Homo sapiens: one gene and its partners. The protein of the gene in region 5 purifies or fractionates together with the protein of the main gene of each other region. This does not show direct contact. Each region holds a gene or a part of one and is shown on either strand. Other genes may lie near its edges.

The links.
Region 1: the proteins of THSD4 (region 5) and ARID5B purify together in Homo sapiens (affinity purification with mass spectrometry; one large-scale study listed by BioGRID and IntAct). This does not show direct contact.
Region 2: the proteins of THSD4 (region 5) and MLF1 purify together in Homo sapiens (affinity purification with mass spectrometry; 2 studies listed by BioGRID and IntAct, with this or other methods). This does not show direct contact.
Region 3: the proteins of THSD4 (region 5) and VSIG8 purify together in Homo sapiens (affinity purification with mass spectrometry; 2 studies listed by BioGRID and IntAct, with this or other methods). This does not show direct contact.
Region 4: the proteins of THSD4 (region 5) and ETV3 purify together in Homo sapiens (affinity purification with mass spectrometry; one large-scale study listed by BioGRID and IntAct). This does not show direct contact.
Region 6: the proteins of THSD4 (region 5) and RIPK1 purify together in Homo sapiens (affinity purification with mass spectrometry; 2 studies listed by BioGRID and IntAct, with this or other methods). This does not show direct contact.
Region 7: the proteins of THSD4 (region 5) and USP54 purify together in Homo sapiens (affinity purification with mass spectrometry; 2 studies listed by BioGRID and IntAct, with this or other methods). This does not show direct contact.

Annotation. Positions count from the first base shown.
Region 1 is NC_000010.11:61,995,623-61,999,679, forward strand, and holds part of ARID5B (AT-rich interactive domain-containing protein 5B), read left to right. Parts: intron 1-2,444; exon of another isoform or gene 2,445-2,529; intron 2,530-4,057. UniProt on the Homo sapiens protein: Transcription coactivator that binds to the 5'-AATA[CT]-3' core sequence and plays a key role in adipogenesis and liver development.
Region 2 is NC_000003.12:158,587,637-158,591,693, reverse strand, and holds part of MLF1 (myeloid leukemia factor 1), read right to left. Parts: intron 2,843-4,057; coding exon of another isoform or gene 2,770-2,842; intron 1-2,769. UniProt on the Homo sapiens protein: Involved in lineage commitment of primary hemopoietic progenitors by restricting erythroid formation and enhancing myeloid formation.
Region 3 is NC_000001.11:159,859,600-159,864,456, forward strand, and holds the start of VSIG8 (V-set and immunoglobulin domain-containing protein 8 precursor), read right to left. Parts: upstream 3,059-4,857; 5' UTR 2,923-3,058; coding exon 2,874-2,922; exon of another isoform or gene 1,047-2,873; intron 1-1,046.
Region 4 is NC_000001.11:157,131,339-157,135,395, forward strand, and holds part of ETV3 (ETS translocation variant 3), read right to left. Parts: intron 2,890-4,057; coding exon 2,774-2,889; coding exon of another isoform or gene 2,742-2,773; exon of another isoform or gene 1,807-2,741; intron 1-1,806. UniProt on the Homo sapiens protein: Transcriptional repressor that contribute to growth arrest during terminal macrophage differentiation by repressing target genes involved in Ras-dependent proliferation. Represses MMP1 promoter activity.
Region 5 is NC_000015.10:71,118,192-71,122,248, reverse strand, and holds part of THSD4 (thrombospondin type-1 domain-containing protein 4 isoform 1 precursor), read right to left. Parts: intron 1-4,057. UniProt on the Homo sapiens protein: Promotes FBN1 matrix assembly.
Region 6 is NC_000006.12:3,102,525-3,106,581, reverse strand, and holds part of RIPK1 (receptor-interacting serine/threonine-protein kinase 1), read right to left. Parts: intron 2,358-4,057; coding exon 2,267-2,357; intron 1,161-2,266; exon of another isoform or gene 1,101-1,160; coding exon 531-1,100; exon of another isoform or gene 1-530. UniProt on the Homo sapiens protein: Serine-threonine kinase which is a key regulator of TNF-mediated apoptosis, necroptosis and inflammatory pathways.
Region 7 is NC_000010.11:73,584,568-73,588,624, forward strand, and holds part of USP54 (ubiquitin carboxyl-terminal hydrolase 54), read right to left. Parts: intron 1-4,057.

The DNA of each region.
Region 1 (4,057 bases), on a different chromosome or scaffold from region 5:
TGACCATATTTTGTCTTGAGGAAAAAAAAAAATGTTTTCACCAATAAAATAAACTGCAAAGAAGAGACCTGGACCCAGACTGTTTTACTCAGTGAAACTTCAACCTAGCTTCAACCTTGGCTTTTCCAGGTCCCACTTTGACTCTGTATCTTTCCCTTTTACTTTTCACTTAGAATGCTTTGTAAACTTTCCTAGGAGTCCTCAAGGTCTCGTGGGCTTTCTCCAGTTTGGTAAATATTAAAGGCAACTCCTCTGGGGATGTCTAATTGCAAGGTTGGAAATCTGCCTCTGTCCAAACAATGCCAAAATTCTGGTCCAAACGGGAGGTTCTGTTCATAAGCAACAAAGTTATCATTTGTGTTTTGCCCCACCAAGCATTGCCACAATAGACCAAGCCCCAGCTGTGCCTGTAGCCTCTTAGTGTGTGGAAGGAGGTTGATGAAAGGTAGGGGTTCTAGGCTGGCAACACATAGAGTTGGGACTATTTCCTATCACATGCATAGAAAGTAGAAAGTTAATGTACATGAATGATGTATCAATAATGTTAAATCATTACAGTGGAAATTGCAGTGTTCCAAAATAATAAGTAACAAGCTAACCTAAGGAGAGTAGAATTCTGGCTTCCAACTGGCTGAATTCTACAGTCTTACATCAAACAGAAGTCTTATATTTGACTTGATCAAAGGCCACCATCCTCGTCCCTAATAGTGTAAACCAGTTAAATCTCTGTTATTATTATTACTATTATTATTTGAGACATTTTATCCTAATGAAAAGTCCACCAAACTGGGAGTTCAAAGATTGGGTTATAAGTCCCAGCTACTCAGGAGGCAGAGGTAGGAGGATTGCTTGGGCCCAGGAGTTTTGGGTCCAGCCTGAAGAACAGAGAGAGGCCCATCTCTTAAAGAAAAAAAAGGATTGGGTGGTTATAGTCTCAAATTGGGGAATATTAACAACTAGTAATGCCACTAATAAGGTTGTTGTGAGGAACAAAAGAGACGTGAAAACACTATATAAAAAACCTTTGTGAATTTTAGTGTTTTATTATCAGTACTGGAAATAGCATTAATACTTGCTTTCTAAATGGGGAAACAGTCTCTCTGTTTCTCGTATTTTTAGTTAAGAGGGCTTTTAAAATTTGCTGTCTTCTGTGATATCTGTAACAATCCTGCAAAAGTGGCAGAGAGAAGAGATTTTGCTTCTTTGTTCTATGTACTGGGGGGTTAGGAGAGAAATAAGAATTTTTTAAAAGTCTGACAACTGAAAAAAAAAAATATATATATATATATATTTCAAAATCCAAACTAACAACCTTACTTTAAGTCTTCGCAAAAAAGTAAACTCAGAGTTACTGGTTTCAAAGTTTAGTGTGCATGAGCTATTTGGGATGCTTGTTGAAAAGGTAAATTCCTAGACCCCAGCCTTAGAGATGCTGAGTCACTGGTTCTCGATGGCACAGTATCTGATTCTGATGCAGACAGTCCCAGGACCACTATTAGCAACACTGTCTCCAGGATGCACGGACAGTTGTAGGAGTTGAGAGTAGGGGGAACTTGCTGTTTTTCTTCCAACAGAAAGAGAAGGATTCATGACTTGGCTAGTGTTTTGGGTACTGCGTGATCTAAATGTTTTGAACTAGGATGAGGTGGAGAGAAAAAAAAAAGAGGTCATTTCTAGGCACAGAAGATTGCCAGGGAGCCGACTCCATCCAGAACAGAGAATTGGGAAGCAGTTAGAGATGGCATCATCATGAAAAATGGTTAGAGAAAAAAAAAAGGAGAATGAAGGGATATGAAGGAAGTGAAGTGGTCCCAAGAGTCCAGGTGACATCTTCCATGAAACTTACTCTGAAGCAACTGTTCATTTATACTCCTTCAACCTGAGAGCACACACATTTTTCTCCATTTTATTTCAAGAATACTTGGAGAAATTGATGCACCTTTACCCCTATCATAGAAAGCTAATTGCACAACCAAGATAGAATTTTAGAATCAACAGGTATTTACAGGCACAGTATTTACTATGTATGGGAGATGGTGTTAAGTGCTATGAGGGGTAGTCCTGGCACTTAATGGTTATATGCCTCTCTCTCATTAACAATGTCTTAGACAAATCGAGTATAATACAAATCGAGTGTAATAATACAATTGACACATTGGGGGCTGCTTCTTGAAATAGCACTTAAAAACTCTGGAGAAACGACCGCATTTGAATATTTTCACTAAAACTTTTTGTGCTTTAGCTGTATAAAAAGCACGGTTTTGAACCCAAAGTTTGAACTTAGCGTCTTGGTCTGCTGTAAAAATCTCAGATGGGCATGCCTTGGGACATATATCAGCATCTCAAAACTAGTTTGCATTGGGGGACTTGCCTTCAAGGTAAACATATTTCCTTTTAATTAAGTGTGCCAGCTGACAAAGCAGCTATACACAGACCAGGCAGGAGTTGAAGACGTGTACACTGTTAAAAGATGTCATCTTGTAAGCAGCTAAACATCTCCATCCGTGGAAAAGCCGCCAGCCTGAGGAACTAAGTGAACATAATTAGAAATACATCTGGGTATTGGCCTCCTATCTGAAAAGGTCACATGCACACCTTCCATTGGTACTGGTTATGTTCCATCATTATGTTCCGTCCTTGCTCATTCGTCTCCCACTGGTTACCAGATGGCCATGATAATGTCGGTATCCTTAACAACTGTCTAGTGCAATTCCCTGCAGCATGGTAAGGGCTTGAAATATTGAGTGTTTTCCCTTTGGAGAAGCAAGTGACATGTCTGGGAATTGCTTACAACCGCTCTGATGGGGTGGTTGCGGAGTGATGGCAAACTGGGTCATGGAGCCTAAATTCAGCTTGATGTTGTACAGGTGGAGGCCACCAAAGCACGGTGTTTGCCATTTCTCAAGCTTAAGATGAAGGAAGGCTTCATCCATGCAGAATCTGGTGTTTACAAATGAGCACAAAATAAAGTGAGGTGTAAATAAGCATTAAGATCATTATAAGAGGAAGCTTCGCTAAATTTGCTGAAATGTTCCCCTGAGTTAAGGTGGTTTTGATAGAACTCTCTCACAAGAATGCTTAGGGAGTCCTCCCAGCATGGTTCTCTGAGGTGTGCCAAGTTACCAGATGGATTTGAGGAACGTTAAAAGAGAGGAGTATGGGTATGGGGAGGGTGGAGAAGGTGGGTGTATCAATCAAGTTGGGCTAGATCATGCTGCAATAACAAATGACCCCCAAATCACCACTGCTTTAGAACAACAAAGGTTTATTTTCTGCTTATGTTATATGTCTCTTTTGGATCAACCAGGGGTTCTGCTTCATGTTAATTTTACTCCAAGACCCAGACTGGCAGAGTTGCCACTATCCTGGGACATTATAGATGGTCACAGCAAAGACAAAGAGAGATTGTGGTCAGTGGTACACTGGGTCTTAAAGCAACCATCCACTTCTGTCATATTTCATTGGCCAAGGAAAGTCACAAGGCCACTGGCCTCCAAGAGAGTGAGGCACACAGGCTTTCCACAGGCCCAAAAGGAGAACAGGAAATAGTTGCTGAACAGCACTCATGACCCCAGAGCAGATGGCGATGCATTTTAGACCCATGGACATCTTTGGGGCCAGATGACCTTTTCAGAGGCTCCAAGCACTGAAAAGATTATACAGATGCTTGTTGACTTTCTATGGGGTTACAGCCCAACAAACCAATTGTAAGCTGAAAATATCAAGTCGAAAAGGCATTGAATACACCTAACCTACTGAACACATAGCTTTCCTAGCCTACCTTAAACGGGCTTGTAACATTTGCCATAGCCTACAGTTGGGCAAAATCATCTGGCAACACAGTACACTGTAGAGTACCGGTGTTCACCCTCTTGGTCTCGTGGCTGACTGGGAGCTGCCACCCACTGCCCCTGCCAAGCCTTACAGGAGAGTGTCCTACTGCATATCACCAGCCCAGGAAAAGATGAAAATTCAAAATTCAAAGTATGCTTTCTACTGAATGCATGTTGCTTTTGTACGTGGAACCATCGTTCAGTTGAGGATCATCTGTATAATC
Region 2 (4,057 bases), on a different chromosome or scaffold from region 5:
ACTAATCAATTCCTTATTCCTCGTTCTAGAACTTAAGGTACACCATGATTGGAGCTCACTTTACCAAGGCAATCTTATGCTTTCCTGCAGCCCAGTGGAACTCCCTCTCCAATAGTCTGGCCTCCTTTCAGATTCTCCACTTCAGTTATTCTTCTTAGGTCACCCTTCCCCCTTCTAATTCCAATCCTCTGATGTCATCATAAAGAAGCTAGAAAGTTTTTAAAATTTTTTCTTGGCCAGGCGTGGTGCCTCATGCCTGTAATCCCCGCACTTTGGGAGGCTGAGTCAGGTGGATTGCTTGAGGTCGGGAGTTCAAGACCAGCCTGGCCAACATGGTAAAACCCCATCTCTACTAAAAATACAAAAATTAGCCGGGTGTGGTGACGTACGCCTATAATCCCAGCTACTCCGGAGGCTGAGGCAGGAGAATTGCTTGAACCCGGGAGGCAGAAGTTGCAGTGAGCCAAGATTGCACCATTGCACTCCAGACGGGGTGACAGAGCCAGACTCTGTCTCAAAAAAAAAAAAAAAAAAGAAATTTTCCTTGCAACTCCAGCTCAAAGGAGGAAGCTCAAAGGAGGAAGCTCAAAAATTCTGTCTTCTGCTCATAAGTCCAAGTAGAAAGAGCTTTTCCTCTGAATTTCATAGTATTTGTATACATAAACCTATTCCAAAAGAGCTCAGATTTATTCACACATTACCTTGGAGGTTAAAAAAAGCATAATTGTTCCAAGTGTGAGTTTAAGATTAGCAAACTGCTTAACTGGATTTGTGCTTGTATGTATAGACAGATGTTTTCATTCAGCCTTGTTTAGGCATAATTTACATTCAACGAAATTTACCAATTTTGTTGTACAGTTTGATGAATTTTAAAAAGTGCAGTCATAACCTCCACCATAATTAAGATGTAGAACATTTCTATCATTCCAAAAAGCTTCCTCGTCTCTTTGCAGATAATTACCTGCTCCTAGCCCTAGTTACCATGAATAGGCTTTCTGTCATTATAGTTTGGTCTTCTCCAGATTTCATATAATGGAATCACATAGTATGTCATCTTTTGTGTCTAGCTTCTTTCCCTTAGCATAATGCTTCTTTGATTCATCCATGTTGTTCTCTATTTCAGTTCATTCAGTTTTATTGCTAAGTTCATACATATATCAGTATCATAATCACAAAACTGTTTTTAGTTTTTGGCTATTATGAATAAAGCTACTATGAATATTTATGTACTAGTCTTTGTGTATACATAATTTGACTTAAGTAAACACCTCAGAGCAAGGACTGATGGCTTGTATTAGAAGAGTATGTAAATTTTATGAAAACTGTAACTGAGAGTTCCAGTTGCACTGCATTCTTGGTGAAATATAGGATAGTCAATGTTTAACTGTAGCCATTTGAGTGGTAGGGTCATAACATCTCATTGTAGTTTTATTTTGTATTATTTGTCATTCATGTATGTTCTTTGATAGAACCGTCTTTTCAAATACTTCCCCCATTTTTAAAAATCAGGTTATAAGAGTTCTTTATATATTCTGGACACAGACTTTTATCAGATACAGGTTTTAAATTTTTTCCCAGTCTTGGACTTGCCTTTTTCATTCTCTTAACATGAATATATTCAGCCACACAACCATGAATCTTTGTTAGGTCTTCAGTTTTTACCACATTTTGCTAATGTGTATAAGGATTTTGAGATGGGAAGATTATCCTGGATTATCCCAGTGGGCCCAATGTAATCACAAGGGTCCTTATGAGAAGGAGATAGTAGTGTCATAATCAGAAGATGCTACACTGCTGGCTTTAAAAATGGAGGAAGAGGCCAGAAGCCAAGGAACACAGCAGTATCTAGACGCTAGAAAAGACAAGGAAACAGATTCACCCCCATAAACTCCAGAAGGAATGTAGCCCTGCCAACACCTTGATTTTAGCCCAGGGAAACCCATTTTGGACTTCTGATCTCCACCATAAGATGATTTGTTGTTTTAAGTCTCTAAATATGTGGTAATTTGTTATAGAAGCAATAGGAAACTAATACAAGTTTTTTAATTTTAATTTTAAAATATACAAAAGTCTCACTCCTCTTTTAGAGTATAAGTTCTTCTAGAGTAGGAACTGTATCTTTATTCATTCATATTACCAACCTCTGTGCTTGACACACAGTATACATTATAAATGTTTATGGAGGGCTGGGCGCGGTGGCTCATGCCTGTAATCCCAGCACTTTGGGAGGCCGAGGTGGGTGGATCACGAAGTCAAGAGCTTGAGAAGAGCCTGGCCAACATGGTGAAACCCCGTTTCTACTAAAAGTACAAAAATTAGCTGGGTGTGGTGGTAGGTGCCTGTAATCCCAGCTACTCTGGAGGCTGAGGCAGGAGAATCACTTAAACCCGGGAAGTGGAGGTTGTGATGAGCCAAGATCATGCCATTGCACTCCAGCCTAGGCAATAGGGTGAGACTCCGTCTCAAAATAAAATAAAAAAAAATACAAAAATTCAAAATAAATAAATAAATAAATAATGTTTATGGAATTTGAACCATCCTATATATCAGATGGTCCCCCTACCATTTCTTGGCAAAATTACTAACTATTCTTAATTAAAGGCTCTGCTCACCTTGGTGCTTGCTACACAGAGAAAAATCTCCACTGCAACCAATGCCTGCAGTCTTGAAGTTCCTCCTTAGTGACTTTGGATTTTAGGGGAGGGGAAACTCCTATTTAAACTATACTTGGTTTTCTCTGGCCCAAGTATTTTAGTACATGGGACTTACATGTCCTGATGATAGTTCCAAGGGCTTCTTGTGCTTCAGTTTCAGCTGCTGCAGAGTAAGACCACCTGTATGTCTGAGAAACAACATCCTCAAATGAGGTTTGTTTATGCCATAGAAGCTTATGTCTTAATTGAGGCCATCCTGAATGTGGTCTCAAAATTTTGCGAATATCTATAAATATCTGTTTTTTATGATGCAGAAACACACGTATAAACTTTTTGTAGATTTGTAGTTCATTTTCCTGTCTTTAGATGAAAGCAACAAAACTGATGACTTAGAATGAGGGCAGTTTTTTTCTGCTTTTTTTTTTTTTTTTTTTTTTTTGAGACGGAGTCTCGCTCTCTTGCCCAGGCTGGAGTGCAGTGGCGCGATCTCGGCTCACTGCAAGCTCCGCCTCCTGGGTTCACGCCATTCTCCTGCCTCAGCCCCCCGAGTAGCTGGGACTACAGGCACCAGCCACCACACCCAGCTAATTTTTTGTACTTAGTAGAGACGGGGTTTCACCGTGTTAGCCAGGATGGTCTCAATCAATGTGTTATTCTGACATAACATGTATTAGTTATCTATTGCTGTTGTAACTTAGCAGCTTAAAACAACATTTGTTATGTCACAATTTCTGTTGATTAGGAATCAGGAGCAGTTTAGGTGGGTAGTTCTGACTCAGGGCCTCTCTGTAGGCTGCAATGAAGTTATCAGTTGAGGCTTTAGTCATCTCAAGTCTTGACTGGTGGAGAATCCACTTCCAAGTTCCTTCACACAGCTATTGGCTAGTCTCAAAAATCTGCTTCTAAGCTCATTCAGGTGGACCTCTCCACAGTGCTGCTTTACATCATGGTAGCTCTTTCCCCGAAGTAAGCCATCATGTGTGAGAGAACACCTAAGACAGAAGCCATGCTCTTTAATTTAATTAATTTATTTATTTTTGAGACGGAGTCTTACTCTGTCACCCAGACTGGAGTGCAGTGGCACGATCTCAGCTCACTGCAAGCTCTACCTCCCAGGTTCATGCCATTCTCCTGCCTCAGCCTCCCCAGCAGCTGGGACTACAGGCGCACGCCGCCAGGCCCGGCTAATTTTTTTCTATTTTTAGTAGAGATGGGGTTTCACTGTGTTAGCCAGGATGGTCTCGATTTCCTGACCTCGTGATCTGCCCGCCTCGGCCTCCCAAAGTGCTGGGATTACGGGCGTGGGCCACCGCACCAGGCCAAGCCATGCTCTTTTAAAAATGTAATTTTGGGAGTGACATCTTATCTCTTCTTTTGTATTCTGTTTATTAGAAACAAATTAG
Region 3 (4,857 bases), on a different chromosome or scaffold from region 5:
AGTGTGTGCTTGTGCATGACAGTGGACAGCTGTGACCAGGAGCCTGGCTGTGTTCGTGTGTGATAGTGAGTGATGGTGTGTGCCTGGGACTATGGCCACAGGTATCTGTAGGACATTGTGAGTCTTTCTTGACTACACAGCATTGCGTACTGTGTGTGCTTCCTCTTATGTGATTGTGTGGCTCGCATGCAGCTGCCCCCACAAGCTGGCTTCCAGTGAGGCCCCTCCTGCCACTGAGTCAGTGGCAGGCAATCCTGGGTGAGGAGCCAGGATCCCAGGACCCAGGAGCTCAGGACTGAGCTCTTGTCCCTCCCTACCCTGAAGCCCCAGGCAGGCCTATCCCCAACCGGTTGGACCTAGAGAGGGATAAGACCGGGGGGTGTAGCCAGGGCCCCACCCTGGACACTCTGCCCTCCACCTCCCAGTCTCCAGCAACCCTGCCTCTGCAGGCCCCTCACCAGGCCTCACACACTCTCCGTCTGCGTTCTTTTTTGAGTCAACATGTCTTCTGGAGTCACAGCCCCAGGTCTCAGCAATCATTCTGTTCTATCATGTGGCTCAGGACCATGTTTACACATAGAGATCTCACACATGCACACACACAATTACACCATCACAGGCAAACAAATCGGCACGTGGCCCACTCTTACAAGGCTTCAAAATGCAGATACATACCTATATGGCCCCACCTTCCTACAAACACAGACACTATATAGATTCATTCAGACACAGACACAATCTGCACACAAACACAGAACATATTAATTCAAAAGACACACCCACCGTGTGTTCATATAGTCCCTGTATGTGTTCATTCAAGACCAGACATATCTATGGAAGCCCTGCCAGGAAGGCTTAGCCTGGCTCCAGAGAGGCCAGCAAGGGCCCTTTCAACACCCTCAACAGCTCAGGGATCCCTGAACATCCCCCCTAGGAACACTGGCTGGGCCATCAGCTCTGTCATAACCCAGCTAGACTCCAAGGTGACCCAGAGCAGGCAGGCTGACTGCTGGGGCTCTAACGGGACCTAGTGATGCCTCTTCCAGCTCCAGGCCAAGAGAACAACAGCTCATTCCTGAGATAAGGATCCTGCTGCCATCTGCCAGATCCTGAGGCTGCTCAAGGCAAGCCAGGGATGAGCCAGAACTCGGCTGAGAGCAGAGGCTCCACCCTGGAGAAGCACCGCTGGAAGCACCCACACAGGAAGGACTCTCTCCATGCCATAGGAGCCTGCCAGGCAGGATGGTAAGCATTCAGGGAGAGGGGCTTGGGAAGGAGCGACAGGCTGCAAGAAAAGCACCTCCACCCTGCACCAGGCTGAGAGATTCTTCAATTGTCCCAGACCAGGGAGCCTCACCCAGCTTTTCTATCTCCTTAGAAGTCTTCTCAACCTCCTCCCAAGGGTTCCAGCCTTTCCGCACCCCTCCCTCTCCTTGGGAAGTTGCTCCTAATGTCTCACCTTGATTCCTCTTGCTGTAGCACTAAGGAAGTACTACAGGGAATGTGAGAGGAGAGGCTGGAGAGAGGGAAGAAAGGCAAAGTGGAAGAGAGAGCTGGATGGGAGACTTGAGGAGAGACAGGAATGGAGGAATCACATGGGCTCTCCAAGGAAGAGGACAGTGGTGATTCTTTGCCCCCCAAAAGCACCAGAAACTGGCCATGCTTTACGGGGTGTCATCTCAATAGTGGTGCCTACTCTCTGCTTGCAAATTCTTTCTGAATCTTCAAGGTGCTTCCAGAACTCCTGATCTTCCCTCTGGAGGTAAGGGAGGGGAGAAAAGGCGGCTCCAGCTGAGGGTATTGATGCGTTAATGCAGCCAGTGCTGAGTTGTCCTCACACACCCATTGACACACCACACAGGGGGAAGTCCGGGTCCCCACAGCACAGCTGGAGCCTCCCGAGTGGACTCTGCCAGCCCTGCTCTCATCAGACAGAGAAGGGCTGCAGCTATCCTGCCGGAAATGTCATCATTCCCATGCAGGTGCACGCACCCACACACTCACATACACATTCACGCTCACACAAAGGCTGAAAATGTCACCCCGCCTTCCCAAATTCCTCCTTCATGCCCCTTCATCCCAAATCCAGACTGCAAGAGGGACTCGGAGCCCTTTCCAGTGATGTTGGCATAGAATGCCCCTTGGTGGAACTTGCCCCAACCTGGGCAGGAAGCCACAATGTCCAAACTTGAGCCCTGCCCTGTGGACCTGTCCTGGTGGGGTGAGAAGTCTCTGGAGTTGCCATCCCCACCACCCTCAGGCCTCATCCTAGAGTGGGGCACTGCCCTGTCATAGCACAGGGGGCCCAAGGCTGAGGTCTCAGGCCTGAGCTGTCACTGGCCATGATGGAAGAAACCACTCAGACTTACACCAGACTTAGTCTCTTGCCCTTTCAAGGCAAGTGACTTCCCTGCCCCTTGGCCCTGGCCTTGGGAGAGAAGGAGTAGCGTTGGGAATAGCACACAGTCTGATGAAAATTGATCCTTCCCAAGCTCCTCCTGAGCCCTCACCCAATGCCCGTGCTTACCCCTCTCCTACCCCACCTCCAGCTCCTGCAGAGCAATCAATCCCTCTCCTCCTAGTCACGGCATGAGCTTGCAGGGCACCTGCACACATGTGTGAGCCCGACAGGGGACATATAAAGATCCACTCAAAGACCTCTGCACTACAGACACACACCCTGAACATCAGGCACAGGGTCTCCTGGGGAAAGGTCCCCTGGTAATACCCACACCCGGCTGCAGCAGGGCAAGGGTGGGCAGCACCCTGCCAGGCAACTCAGGCAGCCCCAGGCTCCACTGTGAGCCCTTGCTGCCCCTTTCCTTCCCACCTAGCCTCATGCTGGCTACCCTGCCCCCTGCCCAGCCCCGTACCTGGGCTCAGGCACACGAGTAGAAGGTGGAATGCTCCTCCAACTCTCATGTCTCTAGGCTCGGTGTTTCCTCCGTCTGGGCTGGGTATCCCGTGGGGTCGTAGTGGTGGGTGTGAGGGGGTAGGTGGAGGGAGGGGGAGCTGAGGGCCCAGACACTGCCTGGGGTGGCAGGAAGGTGCAATGAGTGCCCAGCTGGGGAGCAGCTGGAGTTATTTCTATGGGAGGGAGGGGGCCTGGTCCCCGCCTTGGGGAGGAGTCCCAGGAACCCTAATTAGCAGGGTGACAGGGTGGCCTACCTGGGCATTACCCAGCCCTCACCCAAGCTCTTCCCTGTCCTAAGAGTGGCACAGGACAGCCAGCGGGACTTGTAATTAGGCACCTGTTAAACTTCACTTCCTCCTGGCCACATCCTCAGGGTGACAACAGTCACCTCATTTACAGCTTCCAAGGGCTCCCCTCACCACTCATTTGCTGCCTCCTTCCCTGGGGGAAGTGGGGAAGAGGAAGGAGAAGCCAGGCTTGGGAGAAAGAGTGGCCAGGACCTGAAGAGTTAATCCTGATCCCAGGGCATAGGGTTCCCCAGGAGTGTCCAGCCCACCTTCCCCCAGGCTTCAGGCCTTTCAAAGGGACTCAGGCCTCCTGAGCTGAAAGAGGAGAGAAGGGGTGTGTGCAGGAACAGAGTCTCCTCCTGGCTGTCCCCTCTGGAACTGTCCTCCACACCCATACTCGACTCAAGGCCATCCCCAAGTGTAGGGGACCCCTGGGAGCAGGGGTGCTATGGGGGGTCCAGGGTGTGTGCTAGGAGTAAGGTGACTGATGGGCTAGTGAGGGAGTGTTGGAGAGAACAGCGCCAAGAGGACCAGGGAAGGGGGTGCCTGTGTAAGCGTGTGCACCCCTCAGCAATGTCTGTGGGAGGGAGGCAGGATGTCTGTGTCAGGGTGTCTCTGTGAGGATGGCTAAGCCCCTCTGAGTGAACTTCTTGAGGGATCGCTTGGTGTCCTGGCTTCTCTGCCCAGAAAGAGTAGCCAGGTCTTGAGGGTTAATGCAGTCCCAGTATTAACTGGGTCCTTGAGACCAAGGACCCTCATAACCTGGACTGGTCATCGGGCTGACTAAACCAGCACAGTTCTGGGTAAGTTCGTGCTGGGGTGGGGAGGGTCCTGGTAGGCATGGGGAGCAAGTGAAGGGCCACCCCTTGTTGGCTTGTCTAAGGGGGACAGAATGGGCATGTGCCTTGTTGGACTCCATGGTGGGAGTCAGGACATGAGTGACCCCATTCAATAGCTCAACTCCCTCAAAGGAGTCAGGGACTGCCCCCATCCCTACCATGGGGCACAGAAAGGGCAGAGGAGGAAGAGTGTTAGGGAGAGTTATGGGGCTCAGGGATGCTGCCAGGGCCCACCCCTCTGGGGAAAAATAAGTCAGAACATTAAGGAAACACAAGGAGTCCACGCGTCTCTGCATTCCAAGCCGTTGCACCTGAACTCCCAACAATAACAGGGCGCTCTGAGACCTACCAGATGTACACAATGAATATCTTTATTTCCTTATTTATTTTTAGGTTTATGGGATTGTCCTGCTCCCTTTGAAGAGCAGGGATCATTATCCCCATTTTACAGATGGGGAAACAGAGACCTGGAGAAACATGGGGATTCAGCCAATGCGGCTGGTGCCTAAGCTGGGATACCCAGGTACCCAGGGTGTCAGTCCAGAGAGGTCCAAAAAATGGTCTTGGTGATCCTGTGGATTACTAGACCCACTCACGAACAAGAACCATGGAAGGTCAGGGTGAGTGGGAGGGAAAACAGGTCAGACCACGAACAGAGAGATTGAGGAGAAAGCAGTAACATTGTGGTTCCACTAAACTACAGTGCAGGCTTCAGATTTAATTGGGTTCTGGATGTGGGCTAATGTTAGAGCTGGGGTTAAGTTTGGGGTTAGTTGAATTATGAATGAGGTTGAGGTCAGATTTGAGGTTGGGATTA
Region 4 (4,057 bases), on a different chromosome or scaffold from region 5:
AGAATACCCCAACTGTCTCAACCCACCTTGTGGACATGATCTCAATGGCCTCCAGGATCTAAATCCACACAGCTCTATTTAGAGTACTTATCACATTTCACATTGTATTAAACCCGGCATATCTTATCTCTCCTGCTAAACTGTAAGTTCCGTGAGGTAAAGAACTCCCATTATCTGTTGAACAAATGAATCACAACCTAGAGGAGGAATGTATGATCTATTAAATAAGGGCTAGACTTCAACAGCTCGATCTCTCAGGAATTGTTTCCCTAGAAACTGTTCAATAGATAACTATTCAACCTACCCTGATCAGTCTTTAACTTTGCTGTCGTTTTCCTAATTTTATCATTTGTAAAATGTGGATATCAAGACATTCACTTCACTGGGCTGAAAAGTTGAATAACGTAATTCACAAAACTACTAAGCAAAAGTACCTCCATAAAGCAGATGTTCAATAAATGTTACATTCCTTTGTTATCATAAAGTTACCTTAAACAACATTTGGCCTCTCTGGTCAAAAGTTCTTTAAAAACTAATGACACCAGTTCTTTGCAGTTGTCTATACCTAGGATGTGAGCAACCAGGTAGTAGAGATAGATGTACTAAAAGAAATGTACACAGTTTTGCTTTCCTTGTGCTTTATTGAGACTGAGTCTCGCTGTCGCCCAGGCTGGAGTGTAGTGGCATGATCTCAGCTCACTGCGACCTCTGCCTCCCAGGTTCAAGTGATTCTCCTGCCTTGGCCTCCTGAGTAGCTAGGACTACAGGTGACTGCCACCTGTACTTTTAGTAGACATGGGGGTTTCCCCATGTTGGCCAGGCTGGTCTTGAACTCCTGACCTCAAGTGATCTGCCGGCCTTGGCCTCCCAAAGTGTTGGGATTATAGGCATGAGCCACCTGGCCCGGCCCCTTGTGGCTTTTTGATTAGGATCTTGAGCTTGGGTTAAAGATCAATGTTGGTTCAATCGCCTTCGGGCAGAACAGGTGTGCTGGGCCACTATTGTTAGGTTTCTAGATCAGATTCTTCACAGAGTGAGGATCCAGGTTTCCTTGCCCTGGAAAACCACATTACTTCCCAGGGCTTATGAATGCCCCATTCTAGGTTGTCCAAGTGGCTGAAGTTCTGGATTTTCAATAGATAAAAATGGGTCAAAGACAGAAGAACAAGACGAATGAAACATTTTTTTGGGAGTGGGGTGAAGGGGTATGAAAACCAACAAATTCTTTAAAATTGTTGGTATATACATCTAGATTCCCAATTCCTCTAGGCATACAAGGAAGGGGCAAGAGTGAGAAACAGAGGAAGCAAGATTTGAGTGGCGAGTACAGGTCTGATTTCCTAACGCCTCTCCCTCAGGCACAAGGAAAGAAAACAGGTTGTAATTAGAGAGATGCATTCCAATACCACTTTTTTTTTTTTTTTTAAATGCATGCCCCAGGGACAGGAGGGAGTGGTTACAGAAGTTGAGATGAAACTGTAATGATAGCAGAGTCAAGCTAAAACTGCCCTAACTTGTTGTGTAGTAATTACATATCTGCAATGGATCTCAACATTATGTTCTCTCAACCACACCCCCACTAATTTTTCAGGTTTCTTCCAGCTTTTCTGAGAAGTTGTATTACTGCATGATCAGCATTCTTTGCCTTAGCATACAAGGCCACAATGACAGAGTACTTACTGATGGACTGGTCAGAAAACAGTTAAATACAATCTACAGTAGTCCTTTCTTATCTGAGGTTTTGCTTTCCACTGTTTTAGTTACCCACAAAGGTCTGAAAATAGGTCTGTACAGTACACAAAGATATTTTGAGAAAGACCACATTAAGTTTATTACAGCATATTGTTATAATTTTTCTATTTTATTATTGTCATTAATCTCTTACTGTGCCTAATTTATAAATTAAACGTTATCACAGATACATATGAGTGGGGTTAAGGGAAGAAAAAACATCATATATATGAATGGAGTTTGGTACTATCTGTGGTTTGCGAATCTACTAGGGGTCTTAGAACATATACTGCTCAGATAAGGGGAACTACTGTATTTTCTTGGGCAGGAGTATGATTTGCATAAGGAAAAAAATCACAAACAAAAAACCACACAACAACAAAGTCTTTTGAGAGACTGCTTTCAACATCAAGAGAGAATGTGGGGAGCTGTGATGGAAAGCTATAACCAGGAAAGTCAAGAGGGGAAGCCCTACTGCACTTAACAGGAGAGAAGGTCAAGTAACCCCAGAATCTTTTTCTCTGAGGATTTGCTGTTGCAGATCAAAGACACTGCTTTTCACTGCAAACATGTGAACCTCCCCCTTCTCTGATCAAGGATGCTGTGGTTTTGATGATATTCACTTGATAAGGGAGAGCTTGGTAGTTTCACAGAAAATCGGAAGTGTTTGTAGAAACAGGTTCCCATCTATGAAAGAACCACTGGGCTGGGTGTTAAAACTGAGTCCTGAACGTAAAGATCATCACAAACCTATGAAACATCATTCCCAAACAAGATAGCGTAATAGTATCTAGGAGATTACAAACAATATGCAGAAAAGGGAACCAACCAAATAAACCAAAGAAATCTATCTTGATACTGAATAGCCTATAACTCTCCTTATAAGTGAGATGACTTGAGTAAGAACATTGAGGCAATCCAAAGGATCACATTATTTTAGTGTTTCTAAAATCTTCCTAAACATGCCATGTCTTAGATTTGGATTTTTAAAAATTCTTTTCAATTCAAAATTAATTCCCTACCAAAAGAGTTTGTATCTTACCACTTGACCGAATGTTGATGAATGGGTAGTTGGGCATCACCAGCTTGTTGAAGTTAAATTTATAGGTAAATCTTTTCCCTTTTGTTTTATGAAGGATCCTCTTGTTGTAATAGTATCTGTAAAAACAGGAATACATGTCCATTCGTCTTGTAGCTACTGACAGCTTTCAATACACTTAGGTAGCCACTGAGACCAACAATTCTTGCTCTGAGTATTACTTACAAAAATCACTACCAATCTTTCGCAGCCTGGCCCTCCAGGTAGATCTAGGAGACCTAACAGCTTAATTTTCTTACTCAATTTTCAACTCAGCTCGTTTTTGCCTAGAGGTTTACAAAGACAACTTCACTTTAAGATTCTGAACACTTATCCTAGCCCCAAACATTTTCTTCTCCATCTCTCTACAATTTCGATTCTACAGTCCATTTCCGTCCGGTTGCACTGCATGTCACTAACTGCTTAGTTTTTCTTTTTGGTCTTGCCCAGGTGGGGGCAGACAAATCACTAGGGAGACCTGATGTGGTTAGTCTGGAGGCCTAAGCTCAAAAGACAGACAAAGGAATGTACAACTGTTTTATGGTGGCAGGTCAAACAATGGCATGCCCTGATCTGGAAAACAGCAGCTAGTGTGGCCCGCCTCACCTTCAAAGACTCAAAGGGATGTGAAAGAATACAGCAAAGCCACTGTACAGAGTTTACATTTCAGGTCAGGAGAACTTCAATTATCTGGAACCTTTAGTCTTACATCTATGCAGTAGCAGAGGTCATAAACTGCCTTCTAGCCCCTTGAGGGCTAAAGGACTATGAAATGTAAGACCGACAAGGGGAAAAAAGAACCTGAGAAAACTTATAGTGATCAATCTTTAGACATATTGCAGCAGGCTATGGACAACCTGAGCTCACAGACACAGTTCCGGAATAGATAGGTCAGTATCACTGAATCTTCCTCCCGTGACTTGCTTCATCCTTTTCTAAGTTTCTTTCAGGGAAGCCCAAAGAAAGAAATTCTAACAGATTCTAATAGAGAAGTCTAAACTAATCCTTTGGATTATAAATGAACTCCAATCCATGTTTCACCATATACTCTCGCCCACTACAGAGCAGAATCAGCTGTCTGTCAGGATCCAGTGCCAGCCACATTGGAATCCCCTCCTACGTATAACCAAAGATATGCCTTTTCTCCTCCTGTGCCTATGCTACTCACATTCAACAGCTCTTCTACTCCCACTTTAAAGTGACACATTATTCACTAAGATAGTGTAGTCTTTTATTACCTGATACCCT
Region 5 (4,057 bases):
AGAACGCAGGTAAATCCCAGTACCTGACACGGAGCTCTGTAATGGCAGCTCCTCCCCGCTTAGCTGACCAGAAGATCCTCTGAACTTCAAGCAGAATGAAATCCTGGGCCTCAACTAAAATATCGCTAAAGTCAAGCAGGTCCTGGGTACTTGTCTGCTCTGGAAAAGAAACTAAATGGAACTAAAGGCTATACTGTCACTACACGCCCTGTAATGAGACTTCAAAACTTGAAGACACAGCTCTACCCTCAGGGCTCACCTTACAACCAGCAATAAACTCCCCTACATGATTCCCAAGCGGCCTCATGTGCACGGTTGGATTTGATCCTCCTGTCAATCATTAGGTAAGTATAACTATTATTATCCCCCACCAAGAACAAGGCAATGAGAGGGCAGAGAAACCAGAAAACAGGGCAGAGTGGGGATTTGCATCCAGGCCAGACGGCCTCCACGGCTCCTGATTTTCCTCTCAAGACAGCTGCATTCTCTACCCTCAGCCACTTGGCTTGGGACTATCAGGTCACAACAAAGCTAGCAAGGAGCAGAGCCAGTGCAGAATTGGCCAGTACCACTGGAGGACCCAACAGATGTCACAGCCCAGCCCACAAGTAGTCTGACAACCTAGCATGAGGGCAGGAGACGAGGGGCAGGGTAATGTCATCAAAGGGGCAGCTGGAAACCATGGAGCTGGAGCAAAGGGAGGAGCAAGCCAGACAGAATCCAAGGCATGTGAGGGTCAGGGGTCAAACAAGGGAGATCAATCAAAGAGTCAGTTGTCAATTTACCCAAAGCAAGCCTTGGCGCCCTGGAAGAGAAGTTGCTTCTGTGCTTCCCAAAGGAGATGCAGGCTCAGGACTCAGCCAAAGTGGGGAAAAAAAAAAAAAAGTGATAGCTAACATTCAAGTGGCACTTTTCTACACGCCTGAGATAGTTTTGAGCATTTTCCAGGTGGAAAAACTACAGCCCAAGAGGCCAAGGAACCTGTTCAAGGCCCAAAACTTGGTAGAGCCAAGGCTCAAACTCAGGACCTGGCTCCAGAGTGCTCTCCTCCTCAGCACCACCACGCTGCTGCCTGGCCGGGGAAAGGAGGTGGGCTCCCTCTTCCTTCACATCACAAGTGATCAGAGACGCGACATTTCAGGGGGAAAAGTATGTCTGGCAACTACAAATTTGTAGCTTGCTGATATGGTCGGAGGGTTTCCAAGAAGGAAGCAGGTAGGGCAGCCTCCCAGCAGTCCATTTATCCTTTTTCATGGGAAATTAATCTTCTTCTCTCTCCTGACTGTGCCTCCAAGAAAAATGGTTAAGTCAAAGCTCGTCATCCTCCCACCCCTGTAGTCACATGGCTGCATCCCCACCATAAATCAAAGCTGATGCCCCCTTTCATCAGATGCCTGCAGATAATTCCCCTGTGATTTCCCTACTGGGGCTCAGAGGGCCAAGGCCTAAAGGGTTAACATCTCATTTCCTCTTGTCTTTCAAGCCTTAATCCCCATCCTGAGCTGGGTGCATTCCAAGCCCACCTGGAGCAGGTCATGACGAGCTCCCAGCCCATGGCTGGCCCTTCATTTCCCCTGGCAGGAGATTAGATGGGGTGCCCATTAATCACTCCGTGCTTTTGTCCTCACTGCTGGCCAGGCCTTAGGCAGCTGGCCAAGGGCCAGGAGGGTGGAGCAGGCCACATGCTGCCCACCCGGTTGTGGGGTGCCCAGTGCCACCCTCCTGGGACAAGACACAGCGGCACTGTGAACCTGGCTCACTGCCCTCGGACCACGCCCTAGAGAAGCAGGGCTAATGGGCGCCAATGCCTGGGATGACACCTCAGTGATCAGCTTCGGAAAGGCTGGTAGGAGAAGACAACATAGGCAGTACACTCAGCTGGGTGACGGGGTAGACAGGAAAAGAGGTCAACAGAAAGAGACCACTTTCCCAAGACAACGCATCAATACACAAAACTGCTGCCTCTTGTTCCATGGGTTCTTCTTTGGGCAATCTAAAGGGAAGCTGGGGAAGGGGAGTGGGGCGAGCAGGGATGTTGGATGGGTAATTCATTATTACTATCACCGCGCAGCTGGGAGTGTTCATTTGCTGGGTTTGAATACACAGTTGTAACATTCAGCCCTGTGCCCTTCAGACACAAAACCCTGGATTTGAGGGGGCCTGAGATTACATATACATTTTTGTTACAGCAATACATTGAGCTCCAATTGTCTCAAGCACTGATCAGGCACAGAGTAAAGAAATGGGGCGAGAACTAACACTGAGCGCCTGCTATGTGCCTTAGGGCTTTGCCTTAAGCTCTGCATACCCATGCACTGGTCCCCCACCAGCCCTCCAGACTTTGGCCATCCTCTTGTTACACATGGGGAAACTGAGGCTGGGTGGGTAGGAAGTGGAGCAAGGCCAGTTGAATGAAAGAGATCTGTCAACGGCCAGATCCCATTCTGGGAAAGGAGGTTCAACTCACCGTGCCTGCAGGGAGGAAGGGGCTGGCTTTGCCTGTCCAGCCCTATTCGGGGGGTCCCAAACCAAGCAACTTGGGGCTCTTGAACAAACCCACCCTGGTCTTTCTCCCTGAGCACTCGCTCAGGTCCCAAAAGAAATTCACAGTGAGTCTGGTGGCAGGTGGGTTTACATGCCTTCGAGTAAGCTGAGGGGGCTGGGCCTTCAGGACTGAACTAAAGACCCCTCGGGCCAAAAGAGAGGACCCTCTTCCTGGCCTTGGCCACAACTCTCCATTGCTCACTCCTTAGAGTCAAAGTCAGGGCCTCTGTCAAAAAGGAACATGCTGCCTGGGATAAAGTGGCGTATTAACCCACCACCTGTCGCTAGAACCACATTGTAAAGGAAGCCCAGGGCAGTGGTCCCCAAACCTGGGTGTGCGGAAGAATCGCCTGAGGTAATCTTAAAAACGCCAGTTCTCGAGCCCTGCTTCCACCCTGGAGCCTGTGTTTTCTTTCACCAGATCTGAATTTTGATTCAGATGTTCCTAAGACAACTGTTTCAGGAAATAATGATATAGTGGAAAGAACACCAGATTTAGAGAGCTGGGTTTAAGATTTCAGCTCCAAACCTGAGCTGCTGACCTCAGGCAAGTAAGCCTCAACTTTCTTCCTGTACAAGGCAGATGCTGATGTCTCCCTTCTAGGTGGCTGGGAGGATTAAAAGAGAAACCACTGAAAGCCCCAAGCATTGCACACACCAGTGCTCACTAAGCATGGCCCCAGTGAGGCTAACAAGCCAGCGAGGCTGTGGGCACAGAAGTAAGTTTTGACAGGAGGAGGAAAAGAGAGCAAAACAGGCCTAGATGATGAAGGGGTGTCCCAGCCTCAGCACAGCGGTCCTGCGGAGGAGGAGTAAAATTGGGGGATCCCAAGAGGGGGCCAGAGGCAGCAAAGCAGCCTAAAGCCAGAGCTTCCCCTGAATCTTCTCCTCACCTGCGTCAGCCTGCATCATGTGTTGGCTTCCAGCATAACATTTTTAATCCATTTTCACAGCGAGGATATTCAACAAATACACATGAAACCTTTATATCTGCGCATAAGTAAACATCACGATTCTGCATACACACGCAAAGAAAAAGATGGGAAAACCAGAAAGAAGAGGAGAGAGAAGAGAAAAGTGAGATGAGGGGTCAAACCCAGGCAAATAGTCATGTGCTTTCAAGTGTGCTGGGGCCACTAACATGAGGACAGTGTGTTCCATGACCTGGAGAGGCCCAAGGAGGCTGCTCGGGGGAAACCTCAGAGTGGCTGGGGAGGCGAGGCTCATCCAGGCTGAACATAGAGCAGGCACAAAGAATGCAGGGAAGAGACACAGGAGTGTGTGCAAGAAAGGCTGGGTGGGATACACTGCCTGGCAAAATTTAGATCAGAAGAGGGGAAATCTGAATTTCTGAGCTGGGGATGGGAGGTGTGGGGAGGGCAGATAAGACCATGATAGAGACTGGGTGAGTGGAGGGATGGCCTTCAAGCAGGAAGGCGTTGGGATGGCTCTTGGATCAATAAAGTAGACTGGGATTAGGAAACATTTTAAATGCCCTGATGAAAAGTAACCT
Region 6 (4,057 bases), on a different chromosome or scaffold from region 5:
AAAAATGCTGGATATTACATTAACTCACTTCCATTCTAGACTGCCAGTAACTACTATCACCTACCTTTTACTTCACCTGATAGAGATATGGGAGTTAAAAGAAAATTTTTCATCACTAATGGTAGTCTTTGAGCTATATAAGGTCAGAAACAAAAATATCCAAGACTGATTTCTTACCTTCAAAAAGTAGCAAGCAAGGTAAAAGCAAATAAGCAGATAACTTCCCATTTATCAGAGATTGGGTGAAATAGGACTACTATGCACTCCAGGTTAGAGTCAAAGATGCCTGCCAGTCACAAGGACCTGTAACCCGATGCTTGCGGGCATCTGTGATGAATCCTAGCCCCAGATGAAATACTCCCAGACCAAGTGGTTTGGCAGGGTCCATTCCACAGGGGCAATTTGCATCTGGCAGCTGATGATGCCCTCTGTCCCCATTATAACCCACAATCTATAATAGAGCTGCTTGGTTGCTGTATTTTCTGAAAAATAAAAAAAGACAAGCTTGTGACTATCGAAGACCCATTTACCTGTTGGTGGCAAGGAGCTGAATGGCATGGTGGGTGTATTTCCTAGATAGTTGGTCTCAGGCACTGGGATATTATGCAGACTAGGCATATGACTTGGAATTGGCCTGTACCAAACTCTGGGACCTGCTGTTCCTGGATCCAGTGGTCTTGTTCCAAAGCCATGTGAGCTATATAATCCATTGTTCTGATACAGTACTTGAGGTTGGCTGGTGAGCCCTGAGGGCTGGTGCACTGCATTACCATGACTGGCTGCACTGGAATAAGCAGTGCCTTTTCCCTCTGTATTCTGAAAATTCTCGTAAGGTCTTTGCTGTGCAAAAGGGTCATGGGAGACCCTGCGTCTCCTTTCCTCCTCTCTGTTGTAAGCCACATTCTGTCTGGGCTGCTGTTTCGTCTGCCTGTCCATGCGGCTGCCATAAAGATGGTAGTTGGCTTCGTCTTGGAGTTTACTCTGCAGGCTGGGCTCATTCTCTTCTTGTGGGTGCTCCAGGGAAGGAGCAAACCAGGACTCCTCCACAGGACCCATCCCAAGTCCCTGGGAACTGTGCAGTGAACCAGGCTGTTCTGTGGCTGAGAAGAAATGATCAACATTAGAATGGGTGTCATGAAACATTAAAAAGTAAAATAAAATCTGAGCGCCGTCATGAATCTGTATCTCAAAGTAACACACAGAAAACAAGTACGAGACCAGTCCAAAGCATTTAGGAGATGGTCCTCTTCCCACAAGCTTTACAAATAATAATAGGAGCTCCTCGCTGGCAGTAAGAGAGTACTAGGAAAATTATAGCAAGCAAGAGAAAAGCGGCTGTTGCAGGGATGATCAAGGAAAAAAGGGACTTGGTTTGGAGCAGAGAAGGTGGTTGTCTCCTTGGAGCAATTCAGGTGGAAAATAAGATCTGTGGCTGGGTGCGGTGGCTCACGCCTGTAATCCTAGCACGTTGGGAGGCTGAGGCGGACGGATCACCTGAGGTCAGGAGTTCGAGACCAGCCTGGCCAACATGGCGAAACCCCATCTCTACTGAAAATACAAAAATTAGCCGGGCATGGTGGTGCATGCCTGTAATCCCTGCTGCTTGGGAGGCTGAGGCAGAAGAATCGCTTGAACCTGAAAGGCGGAGGTTGTAGTGAGCCAAGATCACACTACTGCACTCCAGCCGGGGTGACAGACTCTGTCTCCAAAAAAAAAAGATCTGCAGCAGCTCTGTCCTAAGCATGTCCCATGAATTCTTTCATTCTTGAAGAGCCCTATGAGAGGAGGAGCAATTATGATTTGATGAGTGAAGTTTAGAAGAGGTTAAGTAATTAGCCACAGATCAGGTAGCTAAGCGGCTTCAGTATCCTATACTCTGCCATCCCTTTTGTTACAGTGAAAAAAGTATCCCTACTTGACCTGAGACCAGCCTCTCTGCTTGTACCCTGGCTGTAAGTCACTCCGAGCTCCTCAGGGACTTTGCTCTCACATATGTCCCCTTCCTTCTTCTGAACTGTCACTTCTCCCCATCAGATATATTAGGCCTTTTGTTCAGAACACTCTATGACTGGTGAGCACACTGTTACTTCATATTTCAAATACATGTAACTTGACTCTCGAATATTATTATAAATTCCTGTAAGGCAGGTGTTCACTTTTATAGTTTCTTCTGTTTCCCATATGGTCCTGAATAGTCTTTTAGAGAGTGGAGTGAATGAGTAACCAAACAAATAAATGAATAGATTTTGACCATAGTGTAATTTACCTGAATTTGACCGGCTTGAAGGTACTGCCACACAATCAAGTTGAAGAGACTGCATTCTCTTCACAACTGCATTTTCGTTTGAATACTCTTTCTATAATTAAGAGCATAAATACACACTTTAGTGAACAGCAGGAAATAGAGTCCCAGAAAATTTTAACGAGAAGAATTCATATTTTCAGAAGGTAGAAATTTCACACAGATCTTACAAGTAGTAATTTTTTAAAATTAATGTTTTTCCCAAATAGCCAAAATGATCTTTAAAAAGAACAAGGTTGTAGGACTCACACTTCCTGATTTCAAAACTTACTACAAAGCTACAGTATTCAAAACAGCGTAGGACTGGCATAAAGACAGGCACATATGCCAGTGGGGCAGAATGGAAAGCCTAGGAATAAACCCTCCTATAAATGGCCAATTGATTTTTGACAAGGTTGCCAAGAGCATTCGATGGGGGAAAACTGAATATACACATATGAAATAATGAAGTTGGACCCTTATTTCATACCATATAAAAATTAACTCACAATGGATCAAAGACTTAATTTAAGGGCTAGTGCCACAAAAATTCTTAGAAGAAAACACAGGGAAAAAGCTTCATGACATTGGACTTGGCAGCGATTTCTTGGTTATGACACAAAAGCACAAACAAAAGTAAAGAGTAAAAATAATACATCAGAATTAAAAGCTTCTGTGCATCAAAGGATACTATGAAAAGAGTAAAAAGATAACCTACAGAATAAGGAAAAAATACTTTGGGAGGCCAAGGCAGGTGGATCCCATGAGGTCAGGAGTTCGAGACCTGCCAGGCCAACATGGTGAAACCTTGTCTCTACTAAAAATACAAAAACTAACCAGGCATGATGGTGTGTGCCTGTAGTCCTAGCTACTCGGGAGGCTGAGGCAGGAGTTATCTCTTGAACCTGGGAGGCAGAGGTTGCAGTGAACCAACATTCTGCCACTGCACTCCAGTCTGGGTGGCGACAGAGCAAGATTCTGTCTCCAAAAAAAAAATAAATAAATAAAATAAAATAATGGGGAAAAAGTTGCAAACAATATATATCTGAAAACGGATGAAATCCAGAACATAAAAAAAAAAAATCCTACAACTCAACAACAAAAAACAAACAACCCAATTCAAAAATGGGCAAAGAACTTGAATAGCAGTTTCTCCATAGAAGATATACAAATGGCCAATAAGCCATGAAGATGCTCAACATCATGAGTCATAGGGAAATGCAAGTCAAAACCACCATGAGGTACACTTTCACACTCCTTAGAGTGACTATAATATAAAAATGGTAAATAAAAAGTGTTGGTAAGATGGTGGAGAAATTAGAATCCTTGTGCATTGCTGGTGGGGAATATAAAATGGTGTAGCTACCATGTAAAACAATTTTAACAGTACTTAAAAGTTAAACATGGCCGGGCATGGGAGCTCACGCCTGTAATCCCAGCACTTTGGGACCTCAGATCACCTGAGGTTAGGAGTTTGAGACCAGCCTGGACAACATGGTGAAACCACCCCATCTCTACTAAAAATACAAAAAACTAGCCGGGCGTGGTGGTGTATGCCTGTAATCCCAGCTACTCGGGAAGGTGAGGCAGGAGAATCGCTTGAACCCGGGAGGCGGAGGTTGCAGTGAGCCGAGATGGTGCCACTGCATTCCAGCCTGGGCAACAGAGGGAGACTCTGTCTCAGAAAAACAAAAAGTTATACATAGAATTACCATATGATCTAGCAATTCCACACCCGGATATATATACCCCAAAGAACTGAAGGCAGGAACTCAA
Region 7 (4,057 bases), on a different chromosome or scaffold from region 5:
ACTCAGCAACATCGGGGTAAGTAAATGTAAAATGATAGCGGTCTTGTTAGGATGATGAAATTATGGATTTTTTTCCTTTTTTCTATTTTCTAAATTAACTATAATTTATAAATAATCTATAAACTATCATTTCCTTAAAATAGGGGTTTAAACACATTTTCCCTAAAAATAGAGTGAAAGGACTTGAGACCAGAGATAACCGACCATTGAGACCCGTAATATCCTAACAATATGAAAGCTGGTTAATAATTGGTAACTATTTCCTATTTAGAAACAGAGGGCCTGGTGTGGATCTCTATTTCCTTTCATTCTATTTTCACTGCTGCTGCTACTAAGGTTCAGATCCTCACCACATCTGGACCACTGCACCACATTACTGACTCATTGCCAGTCCTCTAATCCTACATGTCACTACCACCTGACTCCTAAAACACATTCCACACCATGTCACTCCTTTTCAAAATATTTAATGGCTCCTAGAGGGAGATATTCTTTTGGCTGGAAAAGAACAATGGTATTTTTCTAATTCACAGGAAAGAAAATTAATAGATGGATTTTTCATAAGTTTCTCTACCATAATTTTTTCTTACCTACTTAGTCTACTGCTAGCACTACAGAAACTTGAACAAATAGTAGCAAAATTAAGAGGGAAAAAAATCAAAGCAGTCAATTGGAACTATTTTAACACCTTTTTTCCTAACTGACAGTGTTAAGCCATGTTTGCACTGCTATAAAGAAATACCCAAGGCTGGGTAATTTATAAAGAAAAGAAGTTAATCAGCTAATGGTTCTGCACTGTGTATGGGAAGCATGGCACCAGCATCTGCTCAGCTTCTGGCAAGGCCTCAGGGAGCTTACGATCATGACAGACCGCAAAGGGAAGCCCAGGTGTCACATGGCGAGAGAGACAAGGGAGAGGTCTCAGGCTCTCTTAAACAACCAGATCTTGTGTGAATTAACTGAGTGAGAACTCACTCATCACTGAGCTATTCATGAGGGATCCACCCCCATGATCTAATACCTTCCACTAGGCCCCAACATTGGGGATCACATTTCAGCATTAGATTTGAGGGAACAAACATCCAAATCATATCACTGAATCATGTTCATGATTGTGATTTTTATGCTGCATATTTTTGATATTCACATATTCTGCCAATAAAATTAATTCCTGGCCAGGCACAGTGGCTCACACCTGTAATCCCAGCATTTTAGGAGGCTGAGGTGGGCAGATCACGAGGTCAAGAGATCAAGATCATCCTGGCCAACATGGTGAAACCCCGTCTCTACTAAAAATACAAAAATTAGCTGGGCGTGGTGGCGCGTGCCTGTAGTCCCAGGAGGCTGAGGCAGGAGAATCTTGAACCCGGGAGGCAGAGGTTGCAGTGAGCCAAGATCGCACCACTGCACTCTAGCCTGGTGACAGAGCAAGACTCCAGCTCAAAGAAAAAAAAAATTAATTCCTAATTATAAGATAGAATTAAATATGTCTGGCACCAGCGTAAAGTTTGAGAATCACCGGACCTTACCACCATTTCCAGCTTCATCTACTCATTCACTCACTGATCAAACATTTCATTGATCATCCATTATGTGCCTCTCACTCATCCTCCACTCCAAGTACACTAGACTCCTTTCTTTATAACAAATATACCCTGTCCTTTACTTTCTCATTGTCTTGACTCTAATATTGCCTCTCTCTGGAATGCCTTTCCTCTCCATTTATTCTTGCTGAAAATCTTAACTATCCTACAAGGAAAAGCCTTCCCAGATCATTCTCTCACCCTCTCACCTTTCCAATCTCCCAATTTATTTCATCCTCCTCTGTGCTCTCAGTGCATGGTGGGGTTTGGATTACAATACTCACATTCTCCCTCATGTTACAGTTATTTGGGTACGTGGACTACATTTTGTCTTAAGGGCATCTTTCTAATTCCACACAGAGGTTGAATATAATAGGCATTGAATCACTGACAGTTTCATTGAAAGAGAAAACTTTTTGTTTGAAGGTACCTAGCCTAGAACAACCAATTCTAACATCCTGATAAATTCTGACTCTCCTTAAAGAAAAGAACTCACAAAATGGCCTTATCTAGCTTGAGATACTGCTGACAACTTTTTCTAATAGTGACTATATAAATGGAAACAATATTTGCTTCTGATTCAAGCTTGAAAATAGAAAGAGATAAGCATCTACAACCATAAAAAGGGCCAAGCTATTTGTTGATTTATGAGCTGGTTATCTTAAACTCTCCAGCGAATAGTTACTCAACTCAAACAATTTCCTGAGGGCTGGACTTTGGCAGCTTCAAACTATTACATCATGTACAACAGAAGAATTGTATGCTGATAAAGGACAAAAAGTCTTATTTTTCCTGCACAAGAACTTAGATAACTGTCATGTATAACAAATTTGTCTAAAATTTGTTAAAAAGTAGTTGGAAAGAAAACAAAAAGGCACGTTTCACTTTGTTATAATTGACAAATTATAAGAACTAAGAAATGACAGCTGCAGGCTACTTAGCCCTTCCTTATAAAGATCTAAAGTTGTATAATTTACTGACTTCTAAAGGAAGCAGCATGGTAGTAGAAAGAACATAGTGGTTAAAAGTATACCCTCTGCAGGCCGGGTGCAGTGGCTCACTCCTGTAATCCCAGCACTTTGGGAGGCTGAGGCAAGTAGATCACAAGGTCAGGAGATCGAGACCATCCTGGCTAACACGGTGAAACCCCGTCTCTACTAAAAAACACAAAAAAATTAGCCGGGTGTGGTGGCGAGCACCTGTGGTCCCAGCTACTCGGGAGGATGAGGCAGGAGAATGGCGTGAACCTGGGAGGCGGAGCTTGCAGTGAGCCGAGACTGCGCCACTGCACTCCAGCCTGGGCAACAGAGCGAGACTCCATCTCAAAAAAAACAAAAAGTGCACCCTCTGCAGGGCCAACAATATTGCAGAACCTCGGGAGGTAACATGCTTTTAGTGGAGATCCAAAGGGTCCCATTCCTAGAGAACATTATGTGAATTATACAACTTGGGGACACAGAGTTAGTGGAATAGAACAGGTCTCAGCTCCACCATCTAACAGCTGTGGCATATTGACCAAGTTATTGAACTAACTCTTAGGTACTTCATCAGAAAAAATGTGACTAATAATAACATCTATCTCATAGGATTGTTATAAGAATTAAATAAAATAATGTAGATACGTATAATTAGCCCAGTGCCTAATATGTGGTAAGTGTGGAATAAATGTTTTGATGATGATTATGGTGAGGATAATGATGATGAAGAATAAGATGAATCTACATTCCAATCCTAGCTCCATCACATTCAGGCCATTTACTACCTATAATAAATGTGATCTGCTGAAAGGATGCAACAAAATAATGTACGCAGAATACTTAGGGCCAGGTACAAAACAGGAATTCCATAAAGAGTAACTGTGATTATGATGACTGACCATCCTCTATATGCATTATCTCTCCCCCATCTCTCTTTCTCTTACAGGCAAACACACACACACATATAACTACTATAAAAATTTCAGGAGATTAAACTATAATTGATAGCATAAATCCCAAGGCCATATAAAAAATGGGGAAAAGTGTATCCTTTTTTTTTTCTTAAATGTATCCTTTGTTGTTGTTGTTTTTTGTTTTTGTTTTTGTTTTTTGAGACGGAGTCTCGCAGTCACCCAGGCTGGAGTACAGTGGCGTGATCTTGGCTCACCGCAACCTCCGCCTCGCAGACTCAAGCAATTCTCCTGTCTCAGCCTCCATCCATAGTGGCTGGGATTACAGGTGTGTGCCACCACGCCCAGCTAATTTTTGTATTTTTAGTAAAGATGGGGTTTCACCATGTTGGCCAGGCTGGTCTCAAACTCCTGACCTCAAGCGATCCGCCCACCTCAGCCTCCCAAAGTGCTGCGATTACAGGCGTGAGCCACCGCGCCCAGCCTGGGAAAAATGTATTCTAAAACCAGTGCATTCTCAATACAATTCACCCAGACTATTGCAGAAACTTTCTAACTATTCTTTCCTCTCTAATCCCATCTATAC